Regions from separate parts of the Homo sapiens genome. Here all the other regions are linked to region 2. Evidence: fine-mapped expression QTL. A gene starts in region 2. Each other region holds a variant in brackets. All regions are shown on one strand. Distances are from middle to middle. Region 1 overlaps SLC38A8 (solute carrier family 38 member 8). Region 2 holds the start of NECAB2 (N-terminal EF-hand calcium binding protein 2). Region 3 overlaps NECAB2 (N-terminal EF-hand calcium binding protein 2). Region 4 overlaps NECAB2 (N-terminal EF-hand calcium binding protein 2). Region 5 overlaps MBTPS1 (membrane bound transcription factor peptidase, site 1).

Region 1 (6,352 bases), 62 kb before region 2:
ATGATGCAAAACATAGATGAGCCTAAAGAAGAAAATGACCTGTAACAACGTCAGTGCTACTCAGTTTATTTCATTGTTGGATTTTTTGCACATGGCTGCAGAGAGAGAGAGACGCCTCCCCACAACACACACCTACCCACACCCACACATACACACCCACCTACCCACACCCCCCCATGCACACCCACCTACCCACACCCCCCCATGCACACCCACCTACCCACACCCACCCATGCACACCCACGTACCCACACCCACCCATGCTCACCCACCCACACATGCACCCCCATCCCCGCATGTCCCCGTGCCCATGCACGCACATGTGTGCACACACACAGAGGTTGTTTTTTTGTGGCTAAGGGTCTGTATACTTAGGAAGAAATAAAGCTTGGAAACAGTATCCATCTCCCTCTGCTGCCTGCCTTTTCCCTGTTGTGTATGAACAATAGACATTGTATAGAAACAGCAGGCAGCAAACCCGAGCCTCCCTCAGGTCTCTGCCCTGCAAGGCTCTCGTGCCACTCAGACCAAGCCAGGGGGCGGCTTGTCCCCTCTCAAGTGTGAGCGAGCCTGCTGGCGTCCTGCCTTAGGCATCAGGCTGAGTGGCTGATTAGCTTTTGCTGGTGGGAAGGAAACACTATTACAGCTGCCATCCCGAAGGGCGCCGGGTGCCATTAAGAATTCTACACATTTGGGCTGGGCGTCACACCTGTAATTCCAGCACTTTGGGAGGCCAAGGCAGGCAGATCACGAGGTCAGCAGTTCAAAACCAGCCTGACCAACACGGTGAAACCCTGTCTCTACTAAAAGTACAAAAATTAGCGAGGCGTGGGGGCGGACACCTGTAATCCCAGCTATTCGGGAGGCTGAGGCAGGAGAATTGCTTGAACCCGGGAGGCAGAGTTTGCAGTGAGCCAAGATTGCGCCACTGCACTCCAGCCTGGGCAACAGAGCGAGACTCCGTCTCAAAAAACAACAACAACAACAAAACAACAACAACAAAACTCTACATCTGACCCCTTGACCCCAAAGCAGCCCTGCCCCACATGCCCCCTGTACAGATGAGGATGGTGAGGCAGAGGTGGACAGCTTGGCCAGCACCTCATTGTCAAGGGCGGAGCTGGGATTCAGATCCCACTACTGTCCCCGTGCATCAACCGCACATGTCACCCACTGCGCAGCCCCTCACACGGTCACTGTGTTAGCATCCTAGGCACTCTGGCTGCCTGTTACCTGGCCCTGGTCATCACCGTGCAGTACTACCTCTGGCCCCAGGGCCTCGTGCGTGAGTCCCATCCTTCACTGAGGTAAGTCTGAGGGAACAGCTTCCGGCAGCCTCGGCGGGGAGGCACGGCAGGGGAGTCTGTGAGGGGAGTCTTGGAGGAGGAGCCTCTCGTGGCTCACTGCAGAGCCTGGGCTCCTTCCTTCCAGTTCTTTCCGTCTCTGATGCGGTGAAGGCAAGGGAGGGCCACTCTCCTTCTGCTGCAGGGACCTGGCCGTGGCTAGCGATGACCGGGACAGGCCAAGGGACGCAGAACCGCCAAAGGCTGCGGCGGCCTAGGGGTCATAGGTTATTGCAGACTTGTCCCCACAGTGTGGAGGTACAGAATCTGGCAGCCATCCAGCTGCATGTACCGGGGCAGGGGAACAGTGAGGAGGCCGGTGTGGCCAAGCCAGCCGGAACAAGGGCAGAGAGCATGGGCGGGGATGTCGTACAGGGATTCAGAGCCACGGCGAGGAGTTTGGTTTTGCTCTGGATGAGTTGGGAGACTTGGCAGTGTTTTGAGTACAGCAGGGATGTGACAGGATTTGTTTTTAGAAAGGGTCACTCTAGGTAGGGTGTGGTGGCTCATAGTTGTGATCCCAGCACTTTGGGAGGCTGAGGCAGGTGGATCACTTGAGGTCAGGAGTTCAAAACCAACCTTGCCAACATGGTGAAACCCTGTCTCTACATAAAAATATAAAATTCAGCCAGGTGTGATGGTGGGCATCTGTAATCCCAGCTATTCAGGAGGCTGAGGCAGGAGAATTGCTTGAACCGGGTGGCAGAGGTTGCAGTGAGCCGAGATGATACCACTGCACTCCAGCCTGGGCAACAGAGCAAGACTCTGTCTCAAAAAAGAAAAAAATTAATAAAAAGGCTCACCCTTTTTATTCTGTTCTGTGGTCCTTGGGAGCCAGGGGCAGCAACAGAGACCAAGTGGGAGGCCTCTGCCTAGATCCCGGGTCCCAGACCTGGTGGCTTCAGAGGAGGCAATGAGGAATAGTCAGACTGGATATGCTTGAGATCGGATTTCCCAGTGGCAGGGCTGGCTCGTGGGTGTGCGACCCCTACAGTCACCCAGGCCCCATGCTCAGTGTACCCTTCTGATGTCACTGTCTTAAAATCCTTAATCCTTGTCCAACAAGGGTCCCCGCATATTCCTCCTGCACCTGGCCCTGTGAATTCTGTGGTCAGTGCTGCTGGTGGGTTGGAAGGTGAGTAAGAGAGAGAAGAAAGTCAAGGTAACTTGGAGCTCTCAGCTTGAACAGTGGGAAGGATGGAGATGCTGTTTCCTGGATTAGAGAGGACTGAGCAGGGCGGGTCCCTGGGAGCAGCTCAGGCTGGAACAGTCAAGGTAGAGCCGACCTGGAGACATCTAAGAGGGAAGTCAAGCAGCTGGGCAGGTCTGTGTGTCTGAAGTTCAGAGAGAGAGGTCCGGGCTGGCAGGAGAAACGTGGCTGACGTTGGCCCAGACATGGCATTGAAGGCTGTGAGTGCTGAGATCTGTACACTGAGCCGGTGGTACTCTAGCACAGGCAGGTCGAGGGGATGAGGAGGCCCTGGTAAAAACAGGAGGTGATGAGTTAGGATATGTGAGTGTCCGAGGGCTGTTGTGACAAGTGATCAAAGTGTGGTCAGGCCATGCTCCCTCCGAAGACTCCAGGGGCAGATCTTTCCTGTCTCTTCCTGCTTCTGGGGGCCGCGGCGATCTGTGTTCCTTGGCTGATAGACGGATCACTGGGTCTTGGCCTTCATCCTCACACCATGTTCTCTCTGTCTGTTTTCCCTTCCAATAAGGGCAGCAGGCATTGGATTCAGGCTCACCCTAATCCACCATGACTTCATCTTACTTTCAGTAATTACACCTGCAAAGCCTGTCAAAGGAAGCTGTGAACCAGGCGGGGATCCCAAGAGGCTGGACCTGGAGGTTCTCCCCACGCAGACCTCTGTCCTCTTAGGTGGCTTGGACAGAGCTCAAACCATCCTTGTGCTATTTGGGATCACTGGGTGGATGCTCTGGGTGCCCCCGCCCCTGCCAATTACCAAACCGCACTGGGAGCCAGCAGCCTTCAAGAGGGAAGTTGGGAGTTCCTA[C/T]TGCGGTTTTCCTGCCCAAATTCTGCCCACATGTAAAATGTCATGTTACCAAATGTCAGCAAAGACGTATTTAGAAAGTGCAGCATTTAGCCAGCATCCTTTTCCATTTCCAAAAGCCCGGTCACGGACACAGTCATTAAAAATACATCTTGCAGCCATGCTCTGTTACATTTTCCCAGCATCCTTTAAAATTCACCATTGCAGCCGCAGGTTGTTCCGGGTGTGACCCTTCTTTAATAAACTCCTGTTCTTGTCTGTTTACAGCCCTGCCTCCTGGACCTCTGTGTTCAGTGTCTTCCCCACCATCTGCTTCGGGTTTCAGGTAATTTTAGCATCTGTGTTGCAGCCTGTGGCGTTTGCAGAGGCTGTGGGTGACTCTCTGCTCCCTTGGGAAACCTTGGTTTCTCTGTCAGGGAGGCGTCTGAGGACTTCTCCTAGGATACAGTGGGCTCTGTGCCGCCCACCTGTGGTTCCCAGGCTGTCATTCCAGACCATGAGGATGGGTTGGTGTCTGGGCTCAGGGAAGTGGGAATTGCCTTGAACTTGGGAATCCAGCCCCCACTGATGGCCAAAAGCAGCACCATGTTTTTTAGGTTTCGCGTAGAGTGTGGGGACCCGGGACCTGTCCCTTCCTCTGCAGAACCCCCACAGGACTGCAGTCAGACCTGAGGCCTGGAGGCCTAAGCTGCCCACCTAACTCTGGCAGGACAGTTTTACCCAGGTGGACTCTGCCCAGGGCCTTGGGCAGGAAAGATCCTGCCTCCTGAGGGGTACAGGGTAGAGGAGCTGGAAGGTGTACAGGGAGCTGATTGGAGAGGGGAAAGGGGCAGAAATACAGAATTTTTAATAGAATGTCATGGGAGGGAGGACGGGGCTATATGTGTAGAATCCTGGCAGAGGGGCAGAGTCAGAGGTGTCCGCTCAAGGTGGTGGGGTTTGAAAGGGATCTTGAAGGATGTATGGGCAGCAGCCAGGTGACTGGAAGCGCACCCCAGGTAGAGAGGACAGCACAGGTGGGATAGCATAGGTGGGTCACCGATGTGAGCGGGCCCCAGGCACAGCTGGAGAGAGACCTGCAGAGGGCTCTGTGGCACAGCGCTGGGGGGAAGGTGGCGGGGCAGGGGGGGCAGGGGAGGTGGCGGGCCTGGGCTCAGTCCTCTGCTTCTGGGCTGTCATGGGTTCCCGCAGCCCTCCTAGCAGGTGGAAGCAGACACTGCTCTTCCATTTCTTTCTTTTTTTTTTTTTCTTTTTTTGAGTTGGAGTCTCATTCTTATTGCCCAGGCTGGAGTGTAGTGGATCTCAGCTCACTGCACTGCACCTCCTGGGTTCAAGCCTCCTGAGTAGCTGGGACTACAGGCGTGCACCACCATGCCTGGCTAATTTTTTTTGGTATTTTTAGTACAGAGGGAGTTTCACTATGTTGGCCAGGCTGGTCTTGAACTCCTGACGTCAAGCGATCTGCCCTCCTCGGCCTCCCACAGTGCTAGGATTATAGGCGTGAGCCACCGTGCCTGGCCACGCTGCTTATTTTCGGGAAGATTTGCCTCGATGTCCTAAAAACAACCACCTATCCACTGCCTACCACCAGCACCAACAAAACCATTCCAAAGTAAAATCAAGTCCACAGGGAGATGTGTCCAGGGTTTACCACCGGATCTCAGCTTTGTAGCCATTGAGCTCGTCTCTTCCCTTGACCATCAGTGAGCTCTGCTTCTGTTCTTCATCTTGCCTTTTCTTTGAGAACCCTTTTTAGGAAAAAAAAAAAAAAAATCTTGAAACATTTCCATTTCTCTTCCTCGTAATCAGTCGGCGTGCTGCTTCAGGGCCTCAGCAAGCCACTTCTGTGGATTTCTCACATTGCTTCCTGCACGCCCAATATTTTGAAAGATCTGAAGAGCTGATTTTGCTGTCAACTGTTTGTCTGGACTGAGTTTAAGAACCTCTCTCTGTGCCCAAGCGCCATATGGTGCAGCAGACCTACGCCGGGGCCGCCTCCCCGATGCTTGCAAGGGGTGCCCCTCACCTTTGCCTCCAGCCCTCACCGGATTCTCCTAGCAACGAGGCCTGGGCTGCGTTTCCAGGGACACGGGATGCCGAGATGAAGAGCTGGGAAGGATAGGAACTGAAGGAGTGGGAGTAGGGGCTCAGGCTAGAGGTGGGGGCTGCCAGGATCTGAAGCGGGGGAGAATAAATGTAACTGAAGGTGCTGGGAAAAGGGGGTAAGGCTGGAGAGGGCTGCAGGAAAGGGACGGTCACATACTGTCATCAGGAACTCTGACCTGACTCAAACACAGCGTCCCCGCCCAAACACATTTGGCAATGGGGCACCCCCGCCCCAGGCCTGTCCAGTCAGTGAGAGGGGCCTCAGGAGCAGAGGGGTTGTGTCCACTCCCAGCCAATGCGGCTACACCAGGACTTCTAGTGTGTGTTTGTTTGTTTGTTTGTTTGTTTGTTTTAATTTTGCTTTTGTGGCAGACTTGCTCTGTCGCCCAGGCTGGAGTGCAGTGGTGTGATCTTGGCTCACTGCAGCCTCCGCCTCCTGGGTTCAAGCGATTCTCCTGCCTCAGCCTCTTGAGTAGCTGGGATTACAGGCGCCTGTCACCACGTCCAGCTAATTTTTGTATTTTTAGTAGAGACGAGGTTTCAACACGTTGGCCAGGCTGGTCTCGATCTCTTAACCTTTTGATCTGCCCACCTCAGCCTCCCAAAGTGCTGGGATTACAGGCGTGAGCCACTGTGCCTGGCTGGTTTTTGTGGTTTTAAAAAATATCTTTATTGAGATAGGATGCATATACCGTGCCATTCACCCTTCTGAAGTGTGCAGTGCAATGGATTTTAGTACAGTCAGAGCTGTGCAACCATCACCACAGTCAATTGAGAACCTTTCTGTTGCCCCTCGAAGAAACCCATCGCCGTCAGTCACTCTCCATTCTCCACCTCTGCCCGCAGCTCTTGCACTTCTTGTCTGTCTGGATTTGCCTACGATGGCCACCT
Region 2 (6,352 bases):
TTTTGAGATGGGGTCTCGCTCTGTCACCCAGGCTGGAGTGCAGTGGCGCGATCTTGGCTCACTGCAACTTCTGCCTCCCGGGTTCAAGCAATTCTCCTGTATCAGCCTTCCGAGTAGCTGGGACTACAGACGCCCGCCATCACAACTGGCTAATTTTTGTATTTTTTAGTAGAGACGAGGTTTCACCTTGTTGGTCAAGCTGGTCTCGAACCCCTGACCTCAGGTGATCCACCCGCCTCGGCCTCCCAAAGTGCTGGGATTACAGGCGTGAGCCACGGCGCCCTGCCCACCAGCACTTTAAAGCCTGAGAAGGATCCCAGCTTCTGCGGTGGCCCCCACCCCAATCTCAGTGGCTTGTTTTAACAAGGAGGGTACTGAGACCCAGGGAGAGGCAGCAACATGTACACATTTCCCGACACCAGGGAGGGCTGCTGGGGCCAGGTCAGCCATGGAGGAGGAGGAGGTAATACTCACTCTGACCCTTCCACCCTCTGTCCTCGCCTTGGGGTAAAGGACAGATGCCCTCGCCCCCCATCCCTCCAGGCAACGAGAAAGGGGGCACCCTTGGTCATTTCTAGGCACCTGGGCGGTGAGACTGAAGCACAGCTATGGGAGGGCCTCTCAAACATCACCCCTCCTCCTGGCTGAACCTCAGATCCCCAAGCCCTCCTCAAAGATCCAGCCTGGGCACCCCGCAGCCCCGTTCCTGACTGGGCAAGGCTCCTCAAAACTGGGGTCCCTATCTGGGTGTCCCAGATCCCCCTTGAGGCCAGGCACCAGGTAGGTGCCGGCTCTGGGCAGGAATGCTGAACACATGAGTGACATGGCAGGGCTGACACCTGGTAATGTCAGCCAGCTCCAGGAGTCTGCATGAGCACCTCCCGCCCCACCCCCCGCTCATCACTCCTTTTGGCAGGTGAGGAGATGGAACCTCAGAGCCCCCACCCTGACTGGGCAGGGCTTCCATGCAGGGCAGCTTGGGGCTGCAGGGCTCTGCCCAGGACTTTCAGTGGGAGCTCTGCGGGGGTCCTGAGGAGGGGATGGTTTGGCTGCATGGGTGTGTCTCTGGCTGTGTGTGCGTGCGTAAGCGAGTGCGTGAGTGTGTGAATGTGTGCCTGCGAGTGTGGCACTCTAGAGCTCCCCCTGCTCTGGCCGGCCCTCCCAGCCCAGACCCCGGCCAAGGGTTCCAGGAGCAGGGAAGAGGAGAGAGGAAGGGAGGGAATCCCCCGACTCACAGGGATCCGCGATACACGCGTGTGCACATTCACACACACCCACCACTCTCCCAGAAATCCACCACACAGGCAGAGGCAGCCCCCAGCCCCACCCCAGCAGGACCCTCGCTGAAACACGCAGTCAACATCCCCAGAAGCCTCCTCCACCTCCTCCTAGCACTCTCTGCTGGGAGAAGTCCTCCTCCTCCGAGCCGCCCCCTGAAGATTCCTCCCTCCCGGGTGGGGCGGGTGGGAGGGTGAGGTGGGCTTCCCAGAGATGGGTGATTTGGGTCCCAGGGGAGTTAGGAGGGGTGAGGGGTGAGTCTGGTCCATGAAGAGGACCCAGCTCTCTGTAGGGTAGAGGGGTGTGGGGAAGGGAACAGAGGACTTGGAATGGAAGGGGGCGGGGTGGGGAAGACCAGAGGGGTACCAGCTCAGGGCTGATGGGCGATGGCTCTGGCTCAATGGAAAGGAGACGAGAAGACAGAAGGTGGGGAGGGGGCTTCACTTTTAAAGTGGCAGTAGCTGGGGCAAAGGGTCTTTGAGCGTGAGATGAACGGGGGCTCAGGGTCTAGGGCGAAGAGAGGTGGGCTAGAGGTAGGGGTTGTTAGGGGTCTCAGAAAAGTATCGCTCCGGACAGGATCCGGGATGGAGAGGAGGAGGCGGCTGGACGCGGCGAGGGGCTCCGGTCCCGCGGGGTAAAGGGTGGGGGTTTGGCTTGGACAAAACTAGGGGGACAGTGGCCGGGTCCGGGGGCTCACGGCTCCCCACTGTGGGCAGGCAGGGACTCCGAGAAGCGCCGGTGGAGGGGCGGAGGAGGGGGGTCTCCCGGTCCAGGGAGAGGACTGGGCTGGAGACCGGCCTGGACGTGGCGGGGCTGGGGGCTCCCGCTCCGGCACGCGGAGGGGCCGGGGGTCTCCTGCCCGGGTAGGGAGGGCCTCGCGGGTCGCGGCGTCGGGGTCCGCCCGAGGGGCGGAGGGGGCTCCGGGTCCCAGCGGAGGCCACGGCGGGGGTCCCGGCCGGCGCGTACTCACGTCCAGGATGACGGCGGTGCCCCCGCGCGGCGAGGCTGGGCCGGGGTCCGCGGGGGCGGCGGGGGCCAGCGACTCCCGGGGCTCGCCCATCCTGGCGCCCACCCAGCGCAGCAGCCCGCCCAGCGCCCGGCCCTGCTGCGGCGGCTCCCGGAGCAGCCTGTGCGCGCCGGCCCTGCACAGGCGCGCCGCCCGCTCGCACATCGCGCCGCGCCCGCCGCCGCCGCCCGGAAGCCCGCCGACCCCCGCCCAGCTGCGGCCCGCCCCCGCGCGACCCCCTCCCCGCGCTGCCCGCGCCGCCCCGCCCTCTCTCCCGCTGCCCCCGCGGCCGCGGACACCGCGGGGACTGGCCGGCGCCGGGGGGCGGGCCGGCCGGACCCCGAGCCACGTGCCCGCTCCCCGCCGCCCCCACCCCCGCCGGCCGGGCGCGGGGCCTGAGGACTGCCCGCCGGGGCGAGGGGCGCGGGCGCAGCCACAGAGGGGGCTACCCGGAGGGGAGGGGTATGTGGGGCCTGGGGGCGGGGCGGCGCCCCTGGGGCCTGCTCCCCAAAAGTCTCCTGCTCTCCCCGCTTCTAAAGTCCCCCCTCCCACTCGCGGCGCGCAGCAGAGGCCGAAGCGCGGGTGTCCAGCGAGCCCGGAGCGCCCTCTGCCGGCTCCAGCCCCGGGGAGCGGCGCCCACGCCCCGCGGCCCCGTCACGCCCGCGGGCGCCCATCCTTAACTCCCGCGGGCGTGCACGCCCCCTCAGGCCGCCCCCTTGGTTACAAAACGCCCAGAACCAGTCTTCACCCCAGAACATCTTTCCTTCATACTCCATCCACCCATCCATCTATCCACCCACCCACCTGTCCGTCCATCCATCCATCCATCCATCCACCTGCCTACCCGTCCATCAATCCATCTATACATCCATCCACCCATCCTCCCATCCATCCATCCGGCCGGCCGACTGTCCGTCCATCCATCCACCCACCCTCCCAACCATTCATCCATCCATCCATCCACCCACCCAGCATCCTCCCATCCATCCATCCATTCACCCACCCACTCATCCTCCCTCCCTGGCATCCATCCATCCACCCTCCATCCATCCATCCATCCACCCTCCCATCCATCCATCCATCCATCCATCCATCCATCCATCCATCCGTCCATCCATCTGCCCGCCCGCCCATCTGTCTGTCCATCCACCCACCCACCCTCCCATCTATCCATCTATCCACCCCCCTACCCTCTCATCCATCCATCCATCCACCCACCTACACACCCTCCCATCCATCCACCCACCATCCTTCCATCCATCCATCTATCCTCCCTCCCTCCCATCCATCCATCCATCCTCCCTCCCATCCATCCACCCACCCACCCACCCCCCTCCCTCCCATCCATCCATCCATCCATCCACCCACCCACCATCCTCCCATCCATCCAACCATCCTCTCATCTATCCATCTGTCCACCCACCCACCCATCCTCCCATCCATCCATCCACCCATCCATTTAAAAGATGAATTAAGGAGAACCCACTAGGTGCCAGGCAGGTGCCCAACCACGGAGTTCCAGCAATGGGCAAAACAGATGGTGTACTTGGTCTCCCAGAGCTCCTGGAGCTTACATCCAAGTGGGCAGAGCCAAACACTGAAATGATTCCACAAACAAATGAACAATTAAAACTGAACTGCTGGAAGGGTGTGGTGGCTCATGCCTGTGATACCAACACTTTGGGGAGCCAAAGAGGGCGGATCACTTGAGGTCAGGAGTTCAAGACCAGCCTGGCCAACATGGTGAAACCCCGTCTCTATTAAAAATACAATAACTAGCTGGGCGAGGTGGCAGTCACCTGTAATCCCAGCTACTTGGGAGGCTGAGACAGGAGAATCATTTCAACCCAGAAGCAGAGGTTGTAGTGAACCAAGCGCCACAGCACTCCAGCCTGGGTGACAAAATGAGACTCTGTCTCAAAAAAAAGAAAAAAAAACTGCACTGCTATGAAAAGGTAGCACCTTAGACCATGAAAGGAGTATTTGCTGTGACGGCAGTGGAGGGGTTTGTGTCAGAAGAGGCTTCCTAGAGGAAGTGATTCTTATGCTGAGACATCCCAAGGAAAAGGAGTTAAAGAAAGGCGGGAAACTGTCCTGGGCTGGGGACTCTCTGTGCAAAGGCCTTGGGGCAGGCAGAGACCTGGCCAGCAGGAGGGACTGAAAGGAGGCCGCATGGCAGAACAGAGAGGAGGGAGGCCTGGGACAGGCTGCGGAGGGGGCGGGGCTGCAGCGCCCTCCTGGACATCACTGCCTGCACACACCCGCCACTCCCACCCCCAGACTCTAGTACAGCTGCCCGCTCAACTGCCCCCACACTTGGGGCACCATCCTTTGTACCCCAAGGCCCCAGCCATGGACCTCATCCAGGACCACATGCCCCAGGACTCCTCCCACAATCCCCTTTCCTCCCTTCCCCCCAGCCCAGTGCAGGGTTCCGGGAACGCAGCTCCCTCCGAGCACAGAGTCCTCAGACGCATGAGAGCAGGTGGGCACTGGCTTTATTTGGGACCTGCTTCTGGAAGGCGCAGGGCTGCAGGTCTCCTGGCTGGGTGCTCAGCTGGTCACACCAGCAGCTTTCCCCACAAATCCCAGGTCTAGGCCAACCCTGGCCTGCGGCCGCTGTTACCACCTCAGACACTGGTCTAAGTCCAGGGCAGCCTGGGATCCCTACTCCTCTTGACCCCAAAGGCCAGCAACGTGGGCTGACACCCCTCCCCGGGGCATCTTTGGACGGGTCCTGCATCCAGCAGGGATGTGGTCATCTCTGTCCTCTCAGGGCCTGGGAGCCAGCGGGTCTGGCCGAGTGTTAGGGTGGCTTCCTGGTCTCCTTCCTTAGCAGGGAGCTGGCCACAGCCAAGGCGCCCCCCTGCACAAACCTCACGAAGTTGTCCCCGGCCAGCGGCCCCATGGCGTACAGGCCCTCCTGGCGGGTGCTCTGGTAGGTGAAGGGGTCCACGTCAATGGGGTTCCTCTTGGCGCTCAGCGGCTGGTCAGGATCCACTGCAAAGTCAGCCCCTGCCCCAGGCAGGAAGGAGAGGTCGGGGTGGGAGCCGATGAGGACCAGCACCAGGGAGACCCCAAACACCTTCTCGACACCCTCGAGGTCCTGGAACACGGCCTGGCAGTCTTCCTTGAAGCACAGCAGCTGGTGCCTGGGGAGGCTGCGGTAACCCTCATAGGGGCTGGGCGACAGGATGGACTGCTCCCGCATCATCTGGTGCACCTTGTGGTACTCGGGGTACAGCATCTTGGGCAGCTGGTTGAACACCAGGCCAGGGTCGTCCACGGCCCGGCGGAAGGCATGGATCACCGGGATGTTGTAGTGGCGGGCGTAGAGGACCGCGTCGGCCGCTGACAGCCCCGCGCCAATGATGAGGACAGGGTCTGAGGCCGGGGTCACCGCACCCACCCTTGTGGCGGCCTCCAGGGCAGACAGCTCATGGTGGATGAAGGGCAGGGCCTCCCCGGGGATGCCCAGCCGGGCCGGGCTGTCGAACGTGCCTGTGGCGAGGACCACGTTGCGGGCCCACAGCGAGAAGGGCTGCTGGGCCTGGTTCCTGGTCAGGAAGCCGCTCACCTGGAAGAGGGGGCTGGAGTCCTGGGCCCCACAGCTGCTGGGATCGGGGGTCCCCCACTCCACGGCTGTGACTACAGCACCGGACACAAAGTTATGCCCCAGACCCTTCTTGACCACGTAGTCCCTGTAGTAGTGGGCGATGTCCCCGGCAGTGGCCCGGCTGTTGCGAAGACCTCTGTTGGGGAGGATGCAGGACGCCAGAGTCAGACACTGTTAGGGGTTGGGGGGCTGGGTGGGACGGGAGATGTCCAGGGCAGTGTCAGGCCCTGGAGCTGGACTAGGCTGTAGCTGTAGGACTAGGCCAGGTAATTCAACCTCTCTAAGCCTCAGTCTCCTCTTCTGTAAAATGGAGCTAACAAGGGTGCCTCCCTCAGGAGAGGTGGTGTAGGGTGGTGTAGGATGCTCTAGGGTGGTGTAGGGTGGGGTTCAGAGGGCAGCCTCCAGAGCCCCGCTGCCTGGGCTCGAATCCTGACTCTGCCATCAGGGAGCTG
Region 3 (5,321 bases), 34 kb before region 2:
ATGCTGTGTGGCGCAGGGGTTAGGCACAGAACTCTGGGTTTGGATCTGACTTGAGCCACTTACTTGCTGTGTGACCTCTGGTGAGTTGCTTGCCCTCTCTGTCTCCATCTCCCCACCTGCCAAGAGCAGGACAGCATAGGGGAGCATGGAGGGAGATGGGCCTGTCAAGTGCTTGACTGTGCCAGGCTCTGAAGTGTGAATTAAGCGGGAGCTCTTAGAGCTTTTAGGGTTGAAACATGTTCTTGTCAGAGCCCATCCCCGGCCACTCAGGTTCTGAGGGGGCCCCTGAAGGCTTTCAGTGCACGTGGGCTGCAATCAGCAGAGATATCACCCCCCATGGAGGCCTGGGCAGATGTGACATGTGGGAGGGGAACAGGCCCGGCTAAAGGAGGTTCCTCAGTTGTACCCCAGAAAGCCTTAGCCCCTGAGAATGTTGTTCTTAGAATAGCTGAGGTGGTTGGAATGTACCAGTCTTGTGGGTGGGGCAGCAGGAGCCTGTAAGTGGCATTCTCGTGCGCCAGGCAGTGAAGCCCCTGATCCTTCAAGGGAGGGGTCTTTTCCCCACATTACAGGTGAGAAAACAGGCCCTGAGAGGCTGGTATAGGGACATTCAGCTTGGAGACATACAGATGGTTCTTGAACCCCTTTTCTTTTCCTACAAACTCATGTCGTGTTTTGCTGGTTTTGCAGCGGCAGGCATCACACCCCGCAAGGAGGTGGCAGTACCCAAGGGGCAGGGACCTGCCCTGGGAGCAGGGTTTCAAAGCTCCCGGCAAGCACAGGGGGCTGGACAGTGTGGGCAGGGACCTTGCTGGGTGGTGAGTGTTAATAACCACATGTGGCACTGGCCAGCCCTCCAGGCTCTGTGCCTGAGGTAGAAAGGTGCCCATTCTGGGTCCTGCCCCTTCCCCTCAGGGCTCCCACCTGTGCCCTGGCCTGTGGTCTTGGCTCTGCCCTGTTTTAGGAGAGGGACCCACCATTCTCTTTGTCCTTTGAACTTTTGTGATTTTTTTTTTGAGACAGTCTCACTCTGTTGCCCAGGGTGCAGTTGTGTGATCTCTGCTCACTGCAATCTCCACCTCCTGGGTTGAAGCGATTCTCCTGCCTCAGCCTCCCAAGTGGCTGGGATTACAGGCGTGTACCATCATACCCAGCTAATTTTTATATTTTTAGTAGAGACGAGGTTTCACCATGTTGGCCAGGATGGATTCAAACTCTTGACCTCAGGTGTTCCACCAGCCTCGGCCTCCCAAAGTGCTGGGATGACAGCTTGAGCCACTGCACTGGGCTGTGAGTGACTTCTTTCCTGCTAACCCGGACTGAGAAATAGGAAGAAGTTACAAAGCTTCCAGAATAAGACTTAAGACATGATTTCCAGTTGATAGGCGGGGTCTCCTGCTGTGTTGAATGGCTAATGCACAGACGTGCCGGGAGGCATTCACCCGTCCCTGGAGCGTCCTGCCTGGTGACAGTGTCTGTGTTGAGCCACACTGCGTGGTCTGGGCCAACCATGTGATTTATGGTGGGGTGTTGAGCCATGAGGTGTCAGCGTGTATGCGTCACCGAACCCCAGTAAGACTCAGGACTGCATCCCTGATTGGTGATGCTCTATCAGCATTGAAGCTGGGAGGGTTCAGTGCTATGGGCCTTTACTGGTAGCCCCGTGCCTGGCCCCCCACTCCGGGAGCCTCTTTCTTTGCTGGATTTTGTCTGTCTGTCTGTCATCTACCTACCTTGACCGTGACTTTGACAGTTGTGCCCAGTCCTTTGAATTACTGACCTGAGGGTAGGTGTGGTGCTGAGCTCCTGAATAGGCATGAGCCTAGTTCCCAAATACCGCATAGAGTGACCACCACCATTTCATGGTTCAGAAAACTGAGGCTGGGAGCACTTGAAGGGTCCCTGGCCCCCTGCTGTTGTCAACCAGGAAACAGACACAGAGCACACAGCTCTTCCCAACCAGGGTTTATTTGGCGCCTGGG[C/T]ACAGTGGTGGCTACCTGGCTAGGTTGGGCACTACAGGGGCATGACTCCTACTAGGTAGAAGAATGTCACCGAAGAGGGCAGGGTGTGGTCAGTGTGGGTCATGCGTGGCCATGTGAGGGGTAGGGGAGAGGCCAGGACCAGGAGGCAGGGGTGCTGGCTCCAGGAAGCCGCCCCCTTCAACCTTGGGCTTCACCAGGACCTGGCAGCACAGACACTGCTCTGCCTTCTCAGGTGGGGGCAGGGGCGGCCTCCTTCACTTAACAACAGGGAAACACCTTCTTGTGGAGGATGGATTGAAAAGAAGCTTCTGCACCAAAGTGTCTGTCTAGAAAAAAACGGGATTTCCTTCACAAGAAGAAGGGGCTGGTGGGCTCCTCCACGGGCCTCTGGGAGGCTGTCAGTCCCGTCCCACCGTGCACCAAGCAGCTAAAAGGAGAGAGACACGTTAGAGGGAAGGAGTGCGAATGTGGGCAGCCTCGTAGCTGGTGGTGGTCGTCTTGAATGACAGGTCGGGGGATGGCTTTGAGTCCTTGTGTGACACACAGGTCCTTGCTGGTCACCCAGGTGCAAACCACACACCTGGGAAGGGAAATTCAGTCTGGCTGGAAGTAGGGGGCCGTGGAGGGGGTGCTCTGGTGCAAGCTCTGGCAGGCATACCTGTATGTGGGGCCACCTCAGGGCTGGCTCTGAGCCTGGCATTGGTGGCAGGAGCTGACAGTGGGCCCACAGCAAGCAGGCAAGTCCCCGGGAGATATGGGGCAGCCTCTAGGCTCTTGCCCTTCTCTCCAGTCAGGTGGCCACTGCAGTTCCAGGCCTTTGCCCCCTACCTGGCACCAAGATCCTGGAGAGGGCCTCAGGCTGGCTCAGTGTGTCCACCTTGACGTGCCGGAACGCCTTACACAGGGGGCTCTGCAGGTGCCTGTGACGCAGGGACATGTGTGAGTCAGGGGTGGCAGGAGTGGAGCTCCGCGTGTGGCTCCCCTGTTAATCCTAGCTCTAGCCCAAAATGGGGAGCTTATCAATAAGCACGGGGGGTCTTTGGACTCAGAGCCTTTGTGGGAAGGTGAGGGGGTGCCCAGGGAGGCTGACTCTGGGGTGGGCAGTGAGCTTCTCTTTTTCCCTGTGAGCTATAAATGGGCAGCGGGATCCCCCCACTCATTGCACAGAGCCTCTACCTCCCCCTTTACCCTAGCAGGAGGAGTGGGGCCATCCTCTGCCTGGGACCCATGACAACACAGAAGCTGCGAAGGCTTTTAGTCCCTCGTTTTATGAGTCACTGAAGTACGGACAGGGAGGGGACACTCTCACTTCTCATGACCGCCCCTGTTCCCACTGGGGTCCTGAGTTTGTCAGCAAACCGTGAGTGTTTACCAGGGAAGCAGGAGATGGGGGCATGGGCTACCCCTAGGCCCCGCTTCCTGCCTGTGGGGTCTGGCGCATCAGCAATAGTCTCCACCCTCTCCCAGATGTGTGCTGAGCAGAGGACAAAGGCCTAAGGCCCATCAGAGCTGCTGACACCCTACCCCATCTCCGTCCCTCGTACCGGGCACTCAGCTGGAGGGGAGGTTAGTCGCTGGAACAATTGATCACATGGGGACTGAGTCACCTTCTAGGTTAGGCCCTCAACTCTACAGGGTGGTAAAGAAGGCAGTGCCTCGGCCCCCAGGGCTGTTCCAGGAGGACAAGGTGCTCTAGGGGCACAGAAGCAACCCTGGGGAAAGCAGGAAAGCCCAGCTGAGTGTGGTGGGGGCTCTCACTACCCACCAAGAGCTCCTGCCTCCACCAGGGTTTACTGACGCAAGCATGCCAGCGGGTAGATGCCTCGGGAATCTGCTGACTGGACTCGGCCTTACCCTCCCCTCCAAGGATGCCTGGCTCCAGGAAGACAGCCCCCCCACTTCCCTCTGTCTCCCTCACCTGCTGTGGGGACCCAGCATCTCACCTCTTCCACGCCTCCTCTGTCTCCCAGAACTCATAGATGACAAAGGTGAAGCCATCTGAGAGCCTCACGGCAGTGATGCTGCAACAGGAGATGGTCGGGGGGAGGAGGCTGGAGCTCAACCAAGGCCACCTCAGTGCTGTTCCCCTGGGGTGGCCTGAGACCCACCACTATACACAACGGCTGCCTTCAATGTTTCTTCCTGTCTTGACCTCCATCGAGACTCGACAGGGTGACCCCAGCACAGGGAATAAGGCCTGGCTTCTTATAGTGGCCAACAGCTATTTATTAAATAGAATCAATGCAGTGTAGTTTTTCTTTTGAGATAGGGTCTCACTCTGTTGCCCAGGCTGGAGTGCAGTGGCACAATCACTTCAGCCTTCCAAGTAGCGGGGACTAGAGGAGTGCACCACTCGGCCTAATTCAAAAACTGTCCCAATAGAGATGGGGTCTTGCTATGTTCCCCATGCTGGTCTTTAACTCCTGGGCTCAGGCTGTCTTCTCACCTTGGCTTCCCAAAGTGCCAGGATTGCAAACTTCAGCCACTGTGCCCAGCTGAAATGTCATGTTAAAGTGTGAACATTTATTTAAACAAAACCAGGTGGCTGGATGTGATGGTTCACGCCTGTAATCGCAGAACTTTGGGAAGTCTTGAGGGGTCGAGGCAGGTGGATTACGTGAGGTCAGGAGTTCAAGACCAGCCTAGCCAACATGGCAAAACACTGTCTCTTTAAAAAAAAAAAAAATAAAACTTGCTGGGCCTGGTGGCACATCCCTGTAATCCCAGCGATGCAGGACACTGAGGCATGAGACTCATTTAAACCCTCTGGTGAGAGGTTGCAGTGAGCTGAGCTTCCACTACTACACACTCACTCCTGCCTGGACAATAAAGCAAGATTTGGTCTCAAAAAACCTTTAAAAATCAAAAAACCTTTAAAAATCAAAGCATCTTCCCTCTTCTTCCTTCTACTTGTCCTCTCATTTAATCCTTGCAACACCCCCACTGCACTGTACCTGACCTGACCAAAGGAGGCTGAGGGGAGGGGGTGCTGGGCCACAGAGGAAGGGGCTGCAGGCAAGTCCCCCATTGCTCTATGGGACCCAGGGGCCCGCACTCACGTCATTTTAAAGGTGCTGATAGTCTATGCCGCCCCAGAATCCTCTCTGCAAGTGCACTACAATGAGGAAGCCCCAAGTGACCATAAAGCGGGGGCCAAAAGCTGGGGAGGAGGGGCTACAGTGCTCAGCCTAGAGGAAGGGGCCGGGCTGGATTCCATCTTGGGGTGGACACACCTCCGTGCAGCTTTAGGTGCACCATGCCTGGGAAGTAGAATCTCACCTGGCTCTCCAGGCTTGCCGTCTCCAACTCGACAAACCAGAGCCTCTACGTCCACCGTGC
Region 4 (6,352 bases), 26 kb before region 2:
GTTGCAGTAAGCCGACATCCCACCACTGCACTCCAGCCTGGGAGATACAGCAAGACTCCATCTCAAAAAAAAAAAAAAAAAAAAAAAAAAGGTCCAGGGAGCCTCAAGAAATACCCCCGGAGTTGGTGGGGTGGCTCCTGTGCCAGGGCAGGGTCTGGGTGCCAAGCGCTGGGCGACATCTCCCCTCCTGGTGGTCCCAAGCAGGGAGAGCGGGGTCAGGGGCATTGAGCCACTTGGATCTTGGCAGTCCTGGCATGGGTAGGGATGTGGTCCCAGAAGAGAGGTGGGAAGGGGCCTCACCATGTTGGTGCCATCTTCATCTGACAGGCGCTGCTGCAGGTCGAACCACAGTGCCTGAAACAATCCAGCACACAGTGATGCTAGACCCAGAGCCCCACTCCGCCCCGGGGAGCCAGGAGCTCTGGGATCCCTGGGGCTGTTGGGAGCTCCCAAGGACCCGGCCCTGTTGCACAGGGCTGGGAGACCAACGCTAGGAAGTGGCAGAGACTCCCTCTGGCCTACAGGGGGCCTAGAACATGTTGCTGGGGTGAGGATGGCTTGGGAGAGGCAGCAAGGGGGACTCCAGAGGCCTGAGTCCAAGATGCTGGGGTTTGCCACTATGATGAGCAACAGCCCTTAGATTCCCTGTAACTTATAATTCACCCCAAATCATAACCCCCAGCACCTCAGGGATCTAATGGGGTGAACTGTTCTCTCTGGTCTTCCCCAGACTCTAAGCTAGATGGTTTACAAATACACAATCTTCCAGACTCCCCAGGGAAGGTGCTGCCCCACTGTAAGTTTCGGTCTCCAGGAACCACATCTGCTCTGTTCGCCCACGACTGGTGCCCACACAGGGCTGAGCCCCCACAGAAGATCAACAGTCACTATGTCACGGCAGAGAACCCCGGCTCTGAAGGCACGAAAGCCATGTAAGTGTCAGAGCGTGGGTCTGAACCCAGTGTGTCTACCTGACGCACAGGCTCATGCTGCTGCTTCCTTCAGCTTGGGCACCCCACTAACCACCTCTGTGGCTATCTCTGTCCATCCTCCATGAGGACAGACCATCTACGGGAGTCACACAGGGCAGCCACAGGTAAAGCACGCCAGCTAATAAGGAAAACAGCAGCAGGTGGATGAGTCTGTGTAGTCACCACCGTGACGTTCTAAATGTTTGAGCAAGGGACCTTGCACGCTCATTTTGCACTGGGCTCTGTAGTAGCTGATCCTGGCAAGGGTACTGCCTTCTGGGGGCACACAGCATGAACACGCCTTGGTAAGTGGTGAAGGTGTGCCTGGCAGGAACAAGTCTGTTTCCATGGTTTTACAAGCATACGTGAGGGGTCCTGGGGCTGGAAAAGCCATAGGAGGATGAGGAGAGGCACTGTGGCCCCTGTATCTGCCCCATTCTTCTCCCAGCCAGGGGCCCCTAGAGCCTCCATCCTTCCAGCCCAGAGGCAGCTCCGGTTGGCCGGTGAAGGGCGGGGCCTGAAGCCAGGCCCGGATTGGCCCCTGCTGACCGCCCGGGCCAGTTAGAGGCTGGGGAGGAGGACCTGGTCCCACCCCGTCTCCAGGACGCCCAGGTACTCCGTGGTTACCAGCCAGCCTGGTTGTTAGGGCGACGGTGCTCTAAAAATAAGCTTCAGAGTCTCCCTCCCGAGGCGCCCGCTGAGTTGTTATGACAACCGGGCCACGGGGTCCCCTCCGAGCCGCTCCCGCAGCTGGCTTCAGGAAGGGGGTAACTCCACCTCAGCCTCATCCCTGCAGGAGGGGAAGTTTGAGCTTCCTCCCTCGGACTTCATTCCACGTCAGCCTCTGTCTCCCTCCATGCGGGGAGCCCCTTGTTCCTGCCCCCATGAATGCCTGAGAACCCCCAAACTAAAAGTAGCAATACCCTTTACAAAGGGTGTAAAAAAAATACACAAAAGTAGGAGAAACATAAAACCACCTCAATCCCAGGGTTCTGAGAGCTCAGTTACCTTGGCTTATGTGGGTATACGGGTGTGCTGTGTGCATGTGGATAGGTTTGGGTAACAGAATGCCTCATAATAATTGCTAACATTGCTAATATTAAATGCAAGCTACAGCACCGGGCCCTGTGCTAAACCGGAGACATCATTTTGGTTCATCCTAACGACACCCCTATGAGGGAGGGGTCCCATGCTCCAGGTTATTTTCTTGATTATCAGAGGAGGAATCTAAGCCTCAGAGAGGACAAGTCCCTGGCCCAGGGTCACACAGCTATGAAGTGGCACAACCAGAATTCTGACTGATACCTGAGCCCATCTGTCTGTAGGCCCTAAGACAAACTTTTCTTTCCACCAAATGGTCATATTGTGAGCACTCTATCCCGAGTCACGAAACATTATCTGAAAATGTTTTCTGTAAGGGCTGTGCCATTTTCTATCACCTGTGGACGTCCCATATCACACTTAATACATTTGCTACTGCTGGTCACTTCCTTCCTTGTTTTGAAACTCTCTCGAATCATCACGTCTCTCTTTCATCCTGGTGCTGCCTTTCGGCCAATATCTGCTCCAGCCACTTCAGAGCAAAGTCTCCTTGAAGCTAGGGCCTTGCAACACGGGACCCTGCTGACCACCCTCTGCTCCTGGAGCTGCTCCTGCTGCCTGCAGGCCCGCCTGACCCCCCAACACTCTCTCTTCCCAGGCGCCCCTCCTTGGGCCTGAACAACACGAGCATCCCCCGGGGTTTGATCCTTAGCTTCGTCCTCGGCAGCTCCACGCCCCACCTGGGGGATGTCTTTTTCATGGTTCCCTGGCCCCTCTGCAGCCCAGACTTTTGTCCTGAACTCCAGGCTTAACTCTGCACTCCCTCAGGGGTTGGAAGGAGTAGACGCCGTGGTCAGGCCAGGGCTTACTTTGCTCTCCAGCCTCCCAATCAGCTCTGCCAAGCGGCTGATCTGGGCTTCCAGACCCTCTTCCTTTGCATCCTCCGTGGCTGCGGTAGAGAAAGAGACACACAGACTTCAGTGGTGGGCAGGACGAGGGCTTCGGGGGGAAGCTGGAAACATCCAGCCCCTCCAGGGGCATCAAACTTGCTCATCTCC[C/G]CAGTCCCTGTCAGAGGACTCTCAGAACTCCTCGGGACCCCCAGCTGGTACCCCCACCAGGGCCCCCGCTTTCTCTCACCAGATGGAAGGGTCTTGCCTTGTTCCATAGCCATGAGCTTGTGGTTGGGGGCAGAGGCGGGAGTGGGGCTTCCACACCAGGTCTGTGCCGCGCTGTGGCTGGGTTTGATGTGGTTCTGTCTGCAGTTTGGATGGGAACACACACAGACCATGGCGGTGGCTTCAGGGCCCTTACCACTTCCAGCATCTTCCACAGGCATTTATTACGCAAGACAGTGGACTCACACATGCACAGAACTTGCATCATGGCCTTTGTTTTGACAGAGGAGGAAATGAGGTTCTTAAAGCAGGTGACTCAGCCAGGGCCACGCAGCTAGCTGGGCAGAGCTGGGATTCGAATTCAGCTCCATTCTAGGACCCCACGGCCTAGGCCTTTTCCCCAAGAGATTCAGTTCCAGAGTGAGGCTGAGCCAGGGACCCACCCCCACTCTAACAGCTCGAAGCTTTCGGGCACGTGTAGAGCCCAAGCTGTGGAGTGACCAAGTCCCCCTCCCTCCCTCATGATAGGCCCATTTAATGTTTGGTGCCCTCTGGGGTGGGGGACCTGGTTTCAAGACCCCCCTCCAACACATACACATAAAAGCGAGACCTAAAGAGACACTGACAGTCGGGATGTAACAGGACAGAAACTGTGATCCTGACCTGGGCCTGGCCCCATCTCCCGGCCCTGGACACCCCTCTCCTGTGCATACTCATGTGCATACACACCCCTGCGTGCCCTGACAGGCACAGCTAGCCACAGGCAGAGGCAGACACACACACACACACACACACACACACACACACACACACACACACACAGCTCACCTTGCACTGTGTCCAGCACATAGTAGGGACTCAAAAATGCTCAATGAATGACCAAATCCTCCCATGCAAAAGGATGCTGAAAAGCTCCTGGCAGACATACAGAAACACAGACACTCCCCCAGAAGACACACAGAGTGCCCTGTGCACGGCCCCAACACCCGCTTGGTCTCTGTGCATCGCGGTCTTGGTGCATTCTGGAATTTGTCTCTTGTGAACCTTGAACACTCCGCCAGGCTCTCCCCCTTGCGGAGGGAGCAAACTCGACTCCCGCCTTGGGAGGGGAGAGGCTGGCAGAGTCTTTATGGTGTCAATCATGGCTTCTCTATAAACCAGCAGGAAATTAAATGTATCCCTCAGACCATGACGGGTTGCTCAGGGCTCCCGGGTGGTGGGGTCTGAGCCAGTAGCCTGTGCTAGAGGTGACATCCTGGGAGACTGTCCTGGGGCTGGGAAACAGGATAGTCCTCAGGGACCCACAGCCTAGAGCCAAACTAGCTGAGATTTGGGGAAGTTCGAGGGAGGGGCATGTGTGGAACAGAGGTATCACGACAAGCTGCCCCGTCTGACAACATCCCCAAGTAAGGTCCCCACCATGGGGGCAGGTGGGTGTAACTGCTGACGCGTGATGGAGCTGACCCAGTGTGGGAAGTCTGCCCTGAAAACTGCGCAGCCATACTATCTGTTCTGCGGCAGGAGAAAAACAGCAAGTTTTTCATCAAGATAGTAACAGGAAAACCCAGGAAATCTAAGTGTCAGCTTTTTTCACAGCGATGGCTGCTAATTCTGGGGCACCCAAGAATCACAAGACTGACCACATGTGCAGAGTTCTGGGCTCCAGTCCAGGGATTCTAGCCAGTGAGTATGGCCAGGAGCCCAGGAATGTGTATTTTAATTTTCCCAGGTGATTCAGCGCAAATGCTCAGATCAAACTCATTTGGGAAACAGTGTCTCAGAGTTACCTTCACAATCATGTCTGATCAGGACCAGCTCTTCAACTACGAAGAAACACACGATCAAACCCCAGTCCCCCAGCAAACCAATATCCTGGTCCTGAGGTACCTCTCTGCCTGGAAAATTAAGGGCTCAATCGAGCTTGGGTGCCGACACCTGGCTGTTTCCCTCATCTGTTTGCATTTTCTCTTTTTCTTCTGTGTCAAGCACATCAGCTGTTCTGGGAAGAACTGAGCAAAGAAGGGTTTTTCTCAATTTGAAACAGCAAATGGAGGTGGGCGGGGGGACGGGTGCTCGTGTTCCCCGGGAGATGGGACTGCTGAGCCACGAGAATGTCGCTCCTCTCTAAATACCAGGTCACACCCCTAACACAGCAGCCACCACCTAGGATGGGACCCCAGATGCATTCCCATGGTTCCAAGCACACAAACAAGGCCTAACACAAGACCAGAAAGAAACACTCCTCTTTCACGTCTCTTTCAGTCCTCCTGAGAAACTCTCAACTTGCTACTACTGTCTTCAACACCTCTCTGATTTCCCCCCAGTCTCTCTTTTTAACAGAGAGGTGGCAAGCCTCAGGATTCAAGCTGGATCGTAAACAATGACAGGTGCTTATTTTTACAGTTACTTCACTTACGGCATGTGATGCCGAGAGTGCAGTTATAACCATATGCCATTTCCTAAACTGCTTTCTAATTTTCAAAAGTGGGCTGGGGTGTGGTGGCTCCTGCCTGTAATCCCAGCCCTTTGGAAGACTGAGACAGCAGGATTGCTGAGACCAGGAGTTTGAGAACAGCCTGGCCAACATGGCGAGACCCCGTCTCTACAAAAAAAAAAAAAAAAAAAATAGCTGGGTGTGGGTGGGACTACATGCCTGTAGTCCCAGCTCCTTGGGAGGCTGAGGTGGGAGAATTGCTTGAACCTGAGTTGGAGATTGCAGTGAGCCACAATGGTGCCACTGTACTCCAGCCTGGGGGACACAGCAAGATTCTGTGTCAATAAATAAAATAAGGCCGGGCTCCATGGCTCAAGCCTGCAATCCCAGCACCTGGAGGCTGAGGCGGGTGGATCACCCTAAAGACCAGCCTGGCCAACATGGTGAAACCCCATCTCTACTAAAAATACAAAAATTAGCTGGGTGTGCTGGTGGGCATCTGTAATCCCAGCTACTAGGGAGGCTGAGGCAGGAGAATCGCTTGAACCTGGGAGGCGGACGTTGCAGTGAGCTGAGATCTCGCCACTGCACTCCAGCCTGGGTGACAGAGCAAGACTCGATCTCAAAAAAAAAAAAAAAAGAAAAGAAAAGAAAAGGAAATAGAAAAAGAAAAAAGAACGAATGAGAGAAAGAGAGAAAGAAAGAGAGAGAGAGAAAGAGAAAATAGGCTAGCTGTGGTGGCTCACACCTTTCATCCCAGCACTTTGGGAGGCTAAGGCAGGTGGATCACG
Region 5 (4,000 bases), 100 kb before region 2:
GCACCAAAAATATACATTCTCTAAAAGGAAATGTAGGGTTAATCCTATGAGGCTCTAGTAGTTTTTATTGATAGAATATGCCTTAAATTTTAACTGTTAAACTCTTTAAGTGTTTGAATGGACTTAGTTATGATACATGAATCTTTCATCAGACATTTGTTATTGGAAATTCTTGTGTTCAAATTATTTAGGTTAAGTTGATAAATAGAAATGATGTTTTCAAACCTGAAAGTTTCTTTCTGCACAATGAGGGCGTTTCAAGTTTCTTTTCTTTTTTTTTAGTCAAAAAATGGTGCAGAACAGACTTCAACAGTAAAGCTCCCCATTAAGGTGAAGATAATTCCTACTCCCCCGCGAAGCAAGAGAGTTCTCTGGGATCAGTACCACAACCTCCGCTATCCACCTGGCTATTTCCCCAGGGATAATTTAAGGATGAAGAATGACCCTTTAGACTGGTAAGCACCTCACAGGATGCACTTCACCTCCCCAGCCTCCGTGGTGGGAGGAGGCACCACTGTTCCCGCAACTCTTGGAAAGATGTTGCTCAGCTTCTCGTGGAGCCTGGACTCTGATGACGCTGAGATGTTCAGGCTTTTGCCATGCACTTAGGGCAGCCTGACTTCTCTTTTGAAACTTTCACAAGTATGATTATGCAGTAAAAAGCTTGAAGTTCTCTTTTCCTTCCTTCTCCCATTGCGCCAGTCAGCAAAGCTGTCAGTCTTACCCTCAAACTGCATCCTGGATCCTTCCATCTCTGGCCTTCTCCCTGCTCCCACCCTAGTCCATGCCATTGTCATCTCTTGCCTGGACCACATCAGCAGCTCCTGAGTGCCACTGCTGTTGCTGTTGTTGCCCTAAATTCCACTCCTCTTCTGGCAACCTTGGTAATCTTAAAACAAATTCTAACACAGTTTGCCTCAAGCTCTCCAGTGACTGCCTATTCTGACTTCCTCACCCGGCCAAGCCCCCTGGTGTGACCCATGCAGCCCTTCAGAAGCTGGCACTGCTTCCCCCGCAGTCCCCATAGCCGCTCTCCCTGTGCCTGTTCCCTGCAGGGCAGCTGGGCTGACTTTCTCTTGGTGCATTAGCCAAGCTCATTTCTGCTTTTATGTTTGGACTACGTTTGAACTCCATGCTGAAAGTAGGGGAAGGGGAAGCATTGAAAGATGTGACCAGGATAGTTACAGAGTCAGACTTGCCTTTTAAAATAAGATGTCTCTGGCAGCCAGATTGGAGGGGCTCAGACCAGAGACGGGTAGACAGGAAGTGGTGGGAAGTTCATAGACCAAGGCAAGCCCGTTGGCCTGCAGGAGAGGACCTGGAGTCTGTGCTGCTGGGAGGTGAGAATGAGGTGACCCCTAGAGGGTGTATACAGTGTCCCATAGGAAAGTGAGCTCATTTGGGAGGGACGGGGATGGAAAGTTGACCAGTGGCAGTGATATCAGTTAGCTGTGCCGCTGTCTTAGCACCGTGGCCCTGCGTGGCTTGTTCCAGCGTCCCTGCACTCCCGCGGCTATTTGCTAAGCTCTTCTGTCAGACACAGATGGTTGCCAGCAATTTACTTGAACGCGACTGCTACAGTGATGGTCCAGGACACATTAAACATGTCTTTGGCCATTTCTTCTGGTCATTTTGTCTCTTTCATGCACCTGCCAGGCACATGGTTTCTTCTTATCAGCCATTTCCGTGTGTCCAGACCAGAGCACACAGGTCTCCTAAGCTGATGCCTGTGCCAGTGGGCCAGCCATCCAGGCCTTCTCTGTGGGCCATGGCATGGTGCTCTTGCAGAGCCGGCCCTGTGGCCAGATATGCCTTTATTGCCAGTAAAGATCGATCATTTTAATGCTGTGGCCTATTGTTTTTCAGGAATGGTGATCACATCCACACCAATTTCAGGGATATGTACCAGCATCTGAGAAGCATGGGCTACTTTGTAGAGGTCCTCGGGGCCCCCTTCACGTGTTTTGATGCCAGTCAGTATGGTAAGTGGCACTGCTGTGCTAGCCAGATGGTCTTTCCGCCCACTTTGGATGTTTGTTAAATGTCTGAGGAGTGAATCCCAGTTTTCAGTGATAGCTACCAAGGGAGTATGCGCCGTGGGCCCCACAGCTGGGTGAGCCTGGGGCGAGGCTCTGAAACAGGTGGTGGCGGTGTGACATTCAGCTGAAATACAAGACAGGCTGATTGGAGACAGGGACATTCGTACTCTTTTTTCTTTAAGTTAAAAGCAGCTCTGCTATATATTTTG[C/T]TCCTTCTCAAGTGAATGAAAATCTTTATCCTGAGCACCACAAGTGAAATCAGATCACAGTTAGTCGCTGTGTATTGCTGGATCCTGGTCCTCTACTTTTTAGTCCCTTTTAAAGTGGTACAGGGTGGCACAAACCAGACTGTTAGGTGTCAGTAACCTGAGACATGTACCTGGTGACACTGTTTCTGCCGTGGTGGTGTCCTGTCATTCAGAAGTGACAGTTCCCAGCTTTGGTTCTTTGTTCATCAGGCACTTTGCTGATGGTGGACAGTGAGGAGGAGTACTTCCCTGAAGAGATCGCCAAGCTCCGGAGGGACGTGGACAACGGCCTCTCGCTCGTCATCTTCAGTGACTGGTACAACACTTCTGTTATGAGAAAAGTGAAGTTTTATGATGAAAACACAAGGTACTGTTGATACGCATTGGTATTTGGATAAGACTTTTGGGGAATCAAATTCTACCCAGCAAATACTTAAGTGATGATTTGACCTGTTGGTGGTCTTTCCAGTTGGCACAGACACATTCAGAGAGCTTGATTAGAAAAAAAGCCCTTTCGACTGAGTGCGGTTGCTCACGCCTGTAATCCCAGCACTTTGGAAGGCTGAGTTGGGCAGATCGGTTGAACCTGGGAGGCCAAGGCTGCAGTGAGCTGAGATCAAGCCACTGTACTCCAGCCTGGGTGTCAGAGAGACCCTATCTCAAAGAGAAAAAATAAAACACAAAAAAGAAAATAGTCCTTTATACAGTAGAGAGGTTCTTGAAAGTTGCTCATAGAGTAAGATGTTTATTGAGTATGAGTACTGTTAATAATATAGAGGGTTCATTGTCTTTCCTTGTTAATCTTAGATATGAGATACTTCAGGTTTAAACTTCTGTTTAATTCTTTTCCACTCTCTGTTACTGAGTATATATAAATTTAAATGCACCAAAGGAACTGTTTCTTAAAGAATATTTCGAGTAAATTATTGTATATTTAAATATTGTATATTTACAATAATTAATTTACTTATATTTATAGTAATTAATTTACTCAAAGGGAATAATGTCCTTCCCTTTATTGGGATCAAGGACTCCCAATGTATTATAAACATAATCACCTTTATGTTTTGAATCGGTTTCTTTAGAATCTGTGACTGAACATTTCTATGCTTCTTTCTCATCTCCTTCTCCTTCACTGAACCTTGCTGGGTCTAGGCTAAGCAGTTATCTCTGGTGCATTTCGGTAAAGTACTGATTTTCATTTCATAAAATAAATTTTGCTTTAATTAATTCTACACATCAGCCGAAGCACTTAAATTTGCAGTTTTACCCAAACCCAGACAGTTGGTTTCAGTTGAAGCCTTAGTGTGGAAGGACTGGATTGTGGCAGGAGAAATTGAGTTTTGTCACAGAGACTAAATAACTGTGTATGGAGTGTCTTCATTCCCTGTTCCCTGTGTGTCTGTTACCACTTTCCCAGGCAGTGGTGGATGCCGGATACCGGAGGAGCTAACATCCCAGCTCTGAATGAGCTGCTGTCTGTGTGGAACATGGGGTTCAGCGATGGCCTGTATGAAGGGGAGTTCACCCTGGCCAACCATGACAGTAAGGCTCTGTTTCCTGAGGGCGTGGTCTTAGGTGTGAGAGCAGAAGCTCTACACCTCTGAAGTCTAGATTTCTTGAGAAAGAGAATGGTGATCCCTCAGTTAGCTGGAGTCTGTGGAAAGAACTCACCAGTATTTTCAAAAGTACATCTGTGAGGCTCTAGTTTTG

Evidence for each region. PIP is the estimated chance that this variant, and not a neighbour inherited with it, causes the effect.
Region 1: its variant is fine-mapped to the expression of NECAB2 in whole blood (TOPMed, PIP above 0.99). The same link has a PIP of 0.9 or more in blood mononuclear cells and monocytes.
Region 3: its variant is fine-mapped to the expression of NECAB2 in whole blood (INTERVAL, PIP 0.92).
Region 4: its variant is fine-mapped to the expression of NECAB2 in whole blood (TOPMed, PIP above 0.99). The same link has a PIP of 0.9 or more in neutrophils.
Region 5: its variant is fine-mapped to the expression of NECAB2 in whole blood (TOPMed, PIP above 0.99).

Annotation. Positions count from the first base shown.
Region 1 is chr16:84,026,822-84,033,173 of GRCh38, reverse strand. SLC38A8 (solute carrier family 38 member 8) reads left to right here. Exons shown (of 11, transcript NM_001080442.3): 5 at 1,206-1,307; 6 at 3,623-3,680. Among named protein-coding and RNA genes, the nearest start is that of SLC38A8, 13 kb to the left of the region's middle. RefSeq lists enhancers at 1-199, 5,549-6,050. The variant C/T (reference allele first, on the strand shown) is at 3,359.
Region 2 is chr16:83,964,746-83,971,097 of GRCh38, reverse strand. It overlaps NECAB2 (N-terminal EF-hand calcium binding protein 2), which reads right to left and starts at 2,854. Exons shown (of 13, transcript NM_019065.3): 1 at 2,249-2,854. The coding sequence starts at 2,449. It overlaps OSGIN1 (oxidative stress induced growth inhibitor 1), which reads right to left. Exons shown (of 6, transcript NM_182981.3): 6 at 4,766-6,036. The coding sequence ends at 5,091. RefSeq lists a silencer at 2,789-2,978.
Region 3 is chr16:83,999,406-84,004,726 of GRCh38, reverse strand. NECAB2 (N-terminal EF-hand calcium binding protein 2) reads right to left here. Exons shown (of 13, transcript NM_019065.3): 11 at 3,926-4,003; 12 at 2,811-2,902; 13 at 1,951-2,409. The coding sequence ends at 2,381. Among named protein-coding and RNA genes, the nearest start is that of NECAB2, 34 kb to the right of the region's middle. RefSeq lists an enhancer at 1,621-2,403. The variant C/T (reference allele first, on the strand shown) is at 1,983.
Region 4 is chr16:83,991,218-83,997,569 of GRCh38, reverse strand. NECAB2 (N-terminal EF-hand calcium binding protein 2) reads right to left here. Exons shown (of 13, transcript NM_019065.3): 7 at 3,150-3,268; 8 at 2,882-2,961; 9 at 301-354. Among named protein-coding and RNA genes, the nearest start is that of NECAB2, 26 kb to the right of the region's middle. RefSeq lists a silencer at 1,525-1,584. The variant C/G (reference allele first, on the strand shown) is at 3,071.
Region 5 is chr16:84,066,321-84,070,320 of GRCh38, reverse strand. It overlaps MBTPS1 (membrane bound transcription factor peptidase, site 1), which reads left to right. Exons shown (of 23, transcript NM_003791.4): 14 at 283-455; 15 at 1,867-1,982; 16 at 2,498-2,654; 17 at 3,708-3,832. Among named protein-coding and RNA genes, the nearest start is that of SLC38A8, 26 kb to the right of the region's middle. The variant C/T (reference allele first, on the strand shown) is at 2,249.